3 linked regions of the Homo sapiens genome follow. The protein of the gene in region 1 purifies or fractionates together with the protein of each later gene. This does not show direct contact. Each region holds a gene or a part of one and is shown in the gene's direction. Other genes may lie near its edges.

Region 1 (3,659 bases):
TATGATATGAAATTTAGGATACAAATGATCCCATCATGCAGGTACTGAGCATAGTACCCAATAGTTTTTCAACCTCCCCCCAATAATCTCCAGTTTCTGTTGTTGCCATCTTTATGTCCATGAGTACCTAATGTTTAGCTCCTACTTTGGTCTCTGTGGTCTCTAAAGGTTCTGGTCCTTTCGCTTATATTCATCAAGTGATTTGACAGATTTCCTTAAACATCTTTACTCACCTTTTTCTTGATTCAGTGCTCACTTGGCTTTTATAACCTTTAACTATTGTTAAGAGTTTCCACAAAGTTGATTCTGACAGTGTTTGTTCATGATATGTGTTTATTTCTGTGGAGGGACATTTTTGCTGTCATCTCTGACAGAGTGGTTTTTTTTTAAGACTAGATTTTTAGGGGACGGGAGCAGTAGTATTCAATAAGATAGGCTATTATGCCTTATTCATAATGGTAAACTATTGTTATCAAATTGGCATCATTTATCCAGTGAGTAAAATCTACAGTATAGGAGGTTGTGGGCATACCATCCTTTCATCATGAAGAAGAAAGGAGCTTTGTTGAGGACAGGAGGTTATGGAGTGAGTTCAAAGTCCAACTCGGTACAGTTGGGTTAAGGAAAAAAAAGATGTGTCTATTATTAAATGTTGTAATACTTCATAGGTGGTGTTGAATTGTTCTTTTTGATGAAATTGTTTTAAAAGTAGTCATGACCTATATGTAAAAGTCCTTCATTATTAATCTCAAAATATGATTTCTAAATCTAGGTGTCCTTAGCTAACCTTGTGATTTTGAATAAGCTTCTTTTTTGGGCTTCCAGATACTTTATGGGTAAAACGTAATGGATTGTGCTTAGACTGAATGGCCTTTGAGGTATTTTCACCTATATTAATGTTTTATTTTTTATTTTTTCTATTAAAATAGCTCAGATAGGAGGGTGATGCAATAATGAATGGAAAAAGACAGCTGAAAGGAAATGCACAACTGATTTTGATGGTTGTTTAGAACTGTTCGCACTGCTATTTATCTCTGTGTTTCAAACTAATTTCATTACTTCAGTATATTGTCATAAAACTTTCAGTGTAATTAAAGCTAAAATAGCCTATAGTCACCACATTGCTCCATAGTAAACTATTTTTTAATGTTAAGCAAAAATGTTGCCATACTGTATATATAGTTTTGTGTCTTTTTTATACATTTAACAATATTTTTGCTGATAATTCCATGTCATTTTTAACATAAACCTACCTCTATATAGTATTCAATCATACTAAGGTATCATGGTTTATTTAAGCACTTTATCTTTGACAGAGGGTTAGGTTGTTTCTGTTCTTTGCTATTATAAACATAATACAGTTAACCTCCATGTGGTAGTTTATATTTCTAGGGCATATACTTAAAGGTGAAATTACTACACATATTTTTGGACCTACCTTGGAAGTAACCAGTACTTAAGAATTTCTTGTACTTCTTCCAGAAATGTTATTATAGTATGTAAGATATATATATATACACACACACACACATACTGTAATGACTAATGTGTAGCACTGTTTTTAAGTAGTAGAAGAGTAGACAACTAAACATTCAAAGGGGGATTGGTTTCATAAGTTATATATTTGTGTGTATATATATCTTACATATATATCTCTCTCTTACATATGTACACAATTATTTGTGAAACCAATCCCTCTTTGAATGTTGTTTTCTACTCTTCTACTACTTAAAAACAGTGCTATATGTTAATCATTTATAAATATGATTGTAATTTTGTAGGATAAATTTCTAGTAGTTGAACATCATGTGGAAAGGTATATACATTTATAATTTTGATGTATATTGTCAAATTGGTCTGCATGGAGGTTTTGCTAATACATTATCATATGTGTGTTAGAGGACCTGTTTTCCCACAGTCTTGACAATACATTATGTTGTCAAATATGATCATCCCCAATATGATACATGAAAAATGGTGTCATGCTATCGTTTTCATTTGAGTCTCTTGTTCTGAGTGGATTGAGCTTTGAGCTTTTGTTTTTTGTTTTTTCTTTTTTTGGAATGGAGTCTTGCTCTTTCGCCGAGGCTGGAGTGCAGTGGCGCAGTCTCAGCTCACTGCAACCTCCACCTCCCGGGTTCAAGTGATTCTCCTGCCTCAGCCTCCCCAGTAGCTGGGATTGCAGTTAGGCACCACGACGCCTGGCTACCTTTTGTATTTTTGGTAGAGACGGGGTTTCACCACGTTGGCCAGGCTGGTCACAAACGCCTGACCTTTTGATCTGCCCGCCTTGGCCACTCAAAGTGCTGGGATTACAGGTGTGAGCCACTGAGCCCGGCCTGTTAGTTCCTATTTTTCTATTGGGTTATTAGACTTTGTTTATGGTTGATTTTTGCCATGAGGAAAATTGTTTTTATGTGTATCTTATGACCTGAAATTTTGTTTTATTATTGGGCCTTTCCCGTTCTGAGTTTATTAAAGAATCTTCTATTGTTAAAATGGGCTCAATTCTAATGTACTTTTTTTTTATATAGGTCTAAGTATTTAGCTACGCCAGGTATGAAAGCCAGTTTCTGAGATTAACTTTTTATTACTTACTACTCAAGAGAGGATGACCTACCGTACTTCACCCTTAAAACATGACAAAATATAGGATAACAATAACAGATTTGTGTGTGCTCCTGTACACAATGTCTTATAGGACAACTGAAACAGAATAGCACCAGAGCTGGACTTTACCATTCAATTGCTCTATAGATTAGTTCAAATTTATGGTGTGGTTCCAAGAAAAACTCTTGATTAGAGTGAAAAGTACTCCTGTTAGGAATTCCTCTTTAGTAATTTGTTATAGACTTGTTTGGTTGTAAATAACATCTAGATCTATGGTTCTTTCTTTTTGGTGCCTCTGTAGTTCTGGTCATCTTTTTGGGACTAATTAATTTAGTTTCTTTTAACTTAGATCTAAAAGGTAGAATTTCATGAATCCAGTTACTTAAGTGTATTTTGCATAGTTAGCATTGCATTTTTTAGAAGATAAGGCAGTATAAAATTACTACTTTGCAACATGAAGTAATTTCTTTAGCATGATGACATTAAGGATAAGTTTTATCTCATTTTCCTTTTTTTATTATTTCAATTAAAGTCTTCAGTTTTTTTTCCTTTGAAAATATTTAATTTATCTTCAACTGTATTTACAATTAGTAGATATACAGGGATGGTTATTGGTTAACTGTAAACTTAAAGAGAATGGTATGTCTTTTTATTTAGATCCCAAGGAAGAAAAAGAGGAAGAAGACGATTCTGCCCTCCCTCAGGAAGTTTCCATTGCTGCATCTAGACCTAGCCGGGGCTGGCGTAGTAGTAGGACATCTGTTTCTCGCCATCGTGATACAGAGAACACCCGAAGCTCTCGGTCCAAGACCGGTTCATTGCAGCTCATTTGCAAGTCAGAACCAAATACAGACCAACTTGATTATGGTACAGTGCAACTAGAATATGGCTGTTTACTAACTAGTTGCTGTTACATTTTAAATGTAATGTTGAACATTTGTGTTAACAGCTTAACTGTCAGGGGCAGGTTTGATGGTGTAGGTGGTATTTCTTTGAACAGTTTGCAGATATTCTGCTTTTGTATAATTACCCCATGCAGTAATTTGATT
Region 2 (3,659 bases), on another chromosome or scaffold:
AAACAGTAGGTGTTAGTGCAGTGTTTCTCGAAATATATTACACATACCACTGCTAGTACAAGGGCAAACATTAAAAATTTCATTCTTCACTTCCAAAATAGGAAAAATATAAAAAGTAAAGATTTTATTCTTACATACTTACTAATTGGGGAATGTGATACTAGATTTCTATTCACTGTATTATATCAAGGTTTCCTTTTAACGTAATTTTAAAGATAAAGTTTTAAGTGTAAAGGGTCATTAAAAATAATATTAGGCCAGATGCCTATAACCCCAGCACTTTGGGAGACCAAGGTGGAAGAACTGCTTGAGCTCAGAAGTTCTAGGCCAGCCTGGGCAATATGGCAAAACCTTGCCTCTACTAAAAATACAAAAAAAGTTAGCTGGGCATGGTGGCATGCACCTGTGGTCCCAGCTACTTGGGAGGCTGAGGTGGGAGGATGGCTTGAGCCCAAGAGGTGGAGGTTGCAATGAGCTGTGATCATGCCGCTGCACTCCAGCCTGGGCAACAAGAGTGAAACTCCATCTCAAATAAATAAATAAAGTTTAAAAAAATTAAATAAATATTACTGTAGGTGGTGTATGGTTAAGGCCAAAACCATGGTGATGGTATGTGACTAAATTTTATTTTTTTATTTTTTATTTTTATTTATTTTTTTTTTTAGTTGGAGTCTTGCTCTGTCACCCAAGCTGGAGTGCAGTGGCATGATCTCGGCTCATTGCAACCTCTGCCTCCTAGGTTCAAGTGATTCTCCTGCTTTAGCCTCCCAAGTAGCTAGGATCACAGGTGCATGCCACCACACCCAGCTAATTTTTGTATTTTTAGTATTTTGTATTTTTAGTAGAGACGGGGTTTCACCATGTTGGCCAGGCTGGTCTCAAACTCCTGACCTCCAGTGATCTGCCTGTCTCGGCCTCCCAAAGTGATAGGATTACATGCATGAACCACTGTGCCCGGCCTAACTAAATTTTAGAAAACAGTGTTCATAGAACCATCTAAAAGAGTTCAGATGTTACTTCTGCATTGTTCTATGTGGTTTATATTTTGGAACTTTAAACATAGTTTTCAAAGAAGAATGGAAGAAACCATGAAGCTTGCTACGATGGAAGACACAGTGGAGTACTGCCTGTTCCTGATACCAGATGAGTCAAGGGACTCAGATAAACATAAAGAGATTCTTCAGAAGTACATTGAGAGAATAATCACTCGGTTTGCACCTATGCTGGTCCCCTACATCTGGCAGAATCAGCCTTTCAATCTTAAATATAAACCTGGGAAAGGTAAGGCTCTTTTACTTGTTTGGATTAGTGTGACTTTTAATGTTATCCTGACAACAGTGATGTGTAATAGTCCACGCTTCATTCAGTGTTGCCAGGAAGAGATTAATACACTAAACTTTTTAGATGAGTAATACTTGTCTATATTCAGTTAGCCTTAAAGCTTTTTTTTAAAAAAAATCATATTAATGAAAACTTTCTAAATTTGCCTTAGGAATTAGCATATACTAAACATTATTAAACTCATGGCTATTCTTTTGAACTTTAGTTACTACACTATGCCATAATGTATCTAAGTATCTATACTAAATAGTTTCAGGCATCTGGCTTTAATCATGGTTCCTTTTGCTGTTACTCAGGATTCCTTATTTTGGTGATGTGTTTGGTAGGCTGCCTTGTTTCATATAGCCATTTTGGTGAGGATCTGAGTGGCTCTGCCCAGCTTATAAAGATAAATAATTGGGCTTTATGACTAATATTTGCCACTTACAAGCATTTTGAGGTTTCTTCATTGCTTCCCTGTGTTGTTGGTGCTTGAGATCTGACCTCTGGCAAAATATGGCACTCTGTCCTGTTATGAGAAAAACCCAGGATTAAACTAGGAGGGAGCGGAGAGACCAAAGAATGACTCGGACAGGTCTATCTTGGCAAGTAGATGAGTTTATTAGGACTTACAGACAAGACACTCCTGGGCAGCATCAGGACAGCTCTAGAAATCCACCCCACCTCCCATATTTAAGTTGCTAGTAAGCTAATTTTTTGGCTCTTTGCCTACTGCGTATATGCAATGACACTGTTTTCCTTGGTATGTTCCCAGCTATGCCCTGCAATGTTTGGGTTCTCAGGACCTGCTCCTCTGCTAGGCATGATGGCTTTGGCTTGCCAGCTGGCCTTTGAAGTTTAAGCAGCAGACATATACCCTTAAGTAGTCTGGTGGGGAACTGGTCACATTACAGTTCTATCATTTCTTATAGTTTTATGAAAATAAATCATGGGTAGGTGACCAAGTCTCTCCTTACACAGTGACTTATGTGAGGTCTTATTTGGGATCAGGAGCCTGGCATCTTGTGATACCATCACAAGATATACCCCCCATGTATACATCACAAGTATACATCACTGTGATACTCTCAGTTTAGTGCGTATCTGTTATCTTTTGGCAACAATTGCTACATATCTTACTGTTAATTTTATTGAACTCTTATTCATTGAAATACATATGATATTTATTGGCAAGAACACTGTCACATTGGTGTAGCACATCTAAAACCAACCCTTTATCCATCCTCTAGAAAACCATTTTTACTGTTTTCTTATCTTGTTTAATGGCATTGCCATCCACCCAGTTATCCAAGCTAGTCAGTAATTCAAAATCATAATCAGTTCCTCACTTCACCATGTTCAGTCAGATGCTAAATCCTGAATGCTTCTAAAATATGACCCCTTCTCTACATCTATTTGGCTTCAGTGTAGACCCTCTTTATCTCTACATCTGGAAAACAACAACAGCCTCCTAACTTACCTCTCTGGTTCCTGTCTTTCTAGTTCCTAACACTGTTGCTGGTTATGTTTGTAAAACACAAATTTGATTGTGTCACTCTCCTGCTTAATATCCTTCAGTAGTTCCCATTGCTTCAAGATGAAATTTAAATCAAAGTCTAATATAGACAAAAATAGTTACTTTAATTGGAGTTCTCTAGTTGAAGAAACTTGAGATCTGGGGTGGGGAGAAGAAGAGTTGGTTGGGCTGTTCTTCTACCTATTGTTTGCCATGGCAGCTCTTGAGACACTCTGTAATGCACTTGTTTGACCTTCATTCTGTTAATGTGGGATATTAACTGTACATTGATTTTCGTGTGTTGAACCATCCTTGCATCCCAGGAATAAATCTCGCTTGGTCGTGGTGAATAATCTATTTAATGTGTTGTTGAATTCAGATTGCTGATATTTTGTTAAGGATTTCTGCATTGATACTCATCAGGGATATTGATCTACAGCTTTCTCATATTGTCTTTGTCTGGCTTTGGTATTAGGGTAATGCTGGCCTCAGAAGGAATTTGGGAATTCCCTCCCTTTTATTTTTTTGGAAGATTTTGAGGAGGATTGGTGTCAAATTCTTTAAATGTTTGGAAGAATTCCCCGGTGAAGCCAGCTTTTCTTTGTTAGGAGCTTTTGGATTATTGATTCAATCTCCTTACTAGTTATAGATCTGTTCAGATTTTTGTATTTCTCATGATCCAGTCTTGACAGGTTGTGTTTCTAGGAATTTGTCAATTTCTTATAGGTTATCCAACTTACTGGTATACCATTGTTCATAGAATTCTCTTATCCTTCTTATTTCTATGACATAAGTTGTACTGTCCCCTCTTTCATTTCCGATT
Region 3 (2,478 bases), on another chromosome or scaffold:
TCAGGTTTAGTCCTTTGTGTAAACTAAAAGGGTTATGGGTTTATAAGCCAGCCTGCCTTGCCTTTTCCTCCCACTCATTCTGCCCACAAACAACTCTGTTTTCCTGCTGAGTCACTTTAAGTTATAATCAGCCTGCTCTTTTTGCTTTCTTTAAATTTCCACAAAACACCTCCTGTGTATAAAACAAAATGGGAAAGAAGGAAGGGCATGTGTGAGCTTAAAAATTAACTTAAAATTACTAGAATTTGCCTTCAAATAAGTATGTGAGGTTAGCTTAATGACCAGGCATGATTATCCTTGAAAAATGTCTTTCCCCTTGCCCACCCCAAATCGACTTGACAAAGGACAGGGTAAGACTCCATGAGGGAGGTTCCATGTCCAGCCACAGTGGAGAAGAGTGGGCTGGCAGAGCCCAGGGAGTCAGTCCAGGACAACAGAGTCAAAGCCAGCCTGGCCCCTGCTGTCAAAATTTATCCACCCAGTCTGCCCCCTCCTTCCTGTCTGAGAGCCCTGCCATGTTGAGAGTTAAGAAGGGATGAAGTTCTGGATTCTGGGCTGCACCTTATCAAAGCCAATTGAGTCTGGTGTAAAAATATTCAGAAACTGTACCCGCTTCTTGAGTAGAGAGAGAGCCATATTCAGGAACAACAGAAGCCAGGGCCAGGATCCTAGTCCAGTGTTCTTCCCACCAGACCACTCACCTCCAGCCGTTTTTTCCTGTAAGGTTGAGATTTTAAAATGACGATATGTGTTCCCAGGATTCTGGAAGTGTATCCCACCCAGACAGTGTGGGGAAGCAGTAGTTAGATAATCCAAGATAAAACTGGCTTTGGGTCCTAGCGCATCTGGTGTCTGGCAGCATTCCTGCCCAGTGCATTAACTGAAACAGGAAGGTGGCGTGGCTTTCTGGGCACATACAGCAGGGAAGAAGCATGACTATACAGTAGAAAGAGCCCTGGACTTAGGGCCAGGCTGCCTTGGTTGTGAGTCCTGAATGCTGCCACTGTGGTGTAGCTGAGCAAGTTGTTCATCTCTAAGCCTCAGTTACCTCATCTGTACAGTGGGGGTGAGAACAGTCAGGGTCATAGGTTGTTAACAGTTAAGGATTGAATCAACATAATGTATGTGAAAGGGCTTAGTCCATGATTGGGTGCTTAATAAATGCCCGTGTTGCTGGGGTGAGCCAAAGGGATGAAGTTGGCAGTGCTTGCTCTGTCGTGGAGCAGTCCCCACGTGGGAAGGCCAGCGGGAAACCAGGCCTGCTGAAGTCTCCAGCGCTGGAAGCCTCACGGGGGTTAGGAAGGAGCCTTGGGAGCAGCTCCTCAGAGCACAGTTGTACCTCAATTGTGGATTTTAGATGTTTCTGCTTCTCAATGTTCTCTCTTTTTTCCTGCCTGCTTGCCTGCCTTTTGGACCTCTTGCTGTCTAGGGTGGCAGATGAAGCTTTCTACAAACAACCCTTCGCTGACGTGATTGGTTATGTGTATGTTGCAAAACTAATTCCTTTTTCTACATCTGATTCTTTCTACTTTTGTTTAGAGTTAATGCTCCTTTTATGTCACAAGTTGCTTTGCTTTTTAAATTATTTCAAATTGGCACTTTGGGGGCTGCCTAAGAATTGATAAGCGGGGTATGATCTGTTGATGAATCTTCCAGATTTGTGACTCCCTGCATCCTCTGATGGCCATTTTTCATATTTGGGGTTTTGGAGGGAAGAAAGCTAACTCGCTTTCAAAATGTGTCATTTGCGATCTTATCTGGGAACGGTTTGAGGCTCGGGGGAACTCTGCTCTCTTGCTCTTGGCTGCCATCACTGCTGCCATGCCCTGTTGCCTGCCTGCCTCAGGTGGGAAGGAGGTTTCCCCACCTGGGAGCAGGTGGCAGTCCCAGGAGGTTAGGAGCCAGTGAGCAGCAGCACCTTGCATTGCCAAAATCAGAGCTGTGGGGCAGCATTTTCCATACTTGGTTCATTCAAACAATGTGGGGTCGTTTGCCTCTCCCTCAGGCAGAAGAGTCCAGAGCAGAGGGGGTTGTCTCCAGTGGGTGTCTATAATTGTTCCTCTGTGGTCTTGCATGTCAGAAATTGCTATTTAGTGGTCAGCTTCTGATGTCCTGTCTCCTAGCACAGGGAAGCCCCCAGCTTTGAGATCAGGATAGTCAAAGTGTCTTGATACGGGCCACTTGGGCTTCTCCCCCTGACCCCCCCAAAAGAAACCTGCATCTTCTCTGGAGAAGGTGTTTTTCTTATTCTTTTTTTTTTCTTTTTTTCTTTTTTCTTTTTTTTAAGGATTTCTTTTATCAAAGCAGTATTGCTGAAGAGTTGGAAACAGTTCTCATTGTCTCCTCCTTAAAAATTAGGGCTGGCTTTACATGAGAAGTAAGGGTGGAATGGAAGAGGAGAGGAACCTGTGGAAGGTGGGCGATGAGCTCAGGTCTGTAGAGCCTCTCAGGGCCTATGACCTTGAGATGTTCATCCCC

The links.
Region 2: the proteins of ZFP91 (region 1) and ECD purify together in Homo sapiens (affinity purification with western blotting; one study listed by BioGRID). This does not show direct contact.
Region 3: the proteins of ZFP91 (region 1) and CLTA purify together in Homo sapiens (co-immunoprecipitation; one large-scale study listed by IntAct). This does not show direct contact.

Annotation. Positions count from the first base shown.
Region 1 is NC_000011.10:58,606,563-58,610,221, forward strand, and holds part of ZFP91 (E3 ubiquitin-protein ligase ZFP91), read left to right. Parts: intron 1-3,267; coding exon 3,268-3,477; intron 3,478-3,659. UniProt on the Homo sapiens protein: Atypical E3 ubiquitin-protein ligase that mediates 'Lys-63'-linked ubiquitination of MAP3K14/NIK, leading to stabilize and activate MAP3K14/NIK. It thereby acts as an activator of the non-canonical NF-kappa-B2/NFKB2 pathway.
Region 2 is NC_000010.11:73,161,355-73,165,013, reverse strand, and holds part of ECD (protein ecdysoneless homolog), read left to right. Parts: intron 1-1,063; 5' UTR 1,064-1,076; coding exon 1,077-1,281; intron 1,282-3,659. UniProt on the Homo sapiens protein: Regulator of p53/TP53 stability and function. Inhibits MDM2-mediated degradation of p53/TP53 possibly by cooperating in part with TXNIP. May be involved transcriptional regulation. In vitro has intrinsic transactivation activity enhanced by EP300.
Region 3 is NC_000009.12:36,207,838-36,210,315, forward strand, and holds part of CLTA (clathrin light chain A), read left to right. Parts: exon of another isoform or gene 1-717; intron 718-1,429; coding exon of another isoform or gene 1,430-1,483; intron 1,484-2,478. UniProt on the Homo sapiens protein: Clathrin is the major protein of the polyhedral coat of coated pits and vesicles.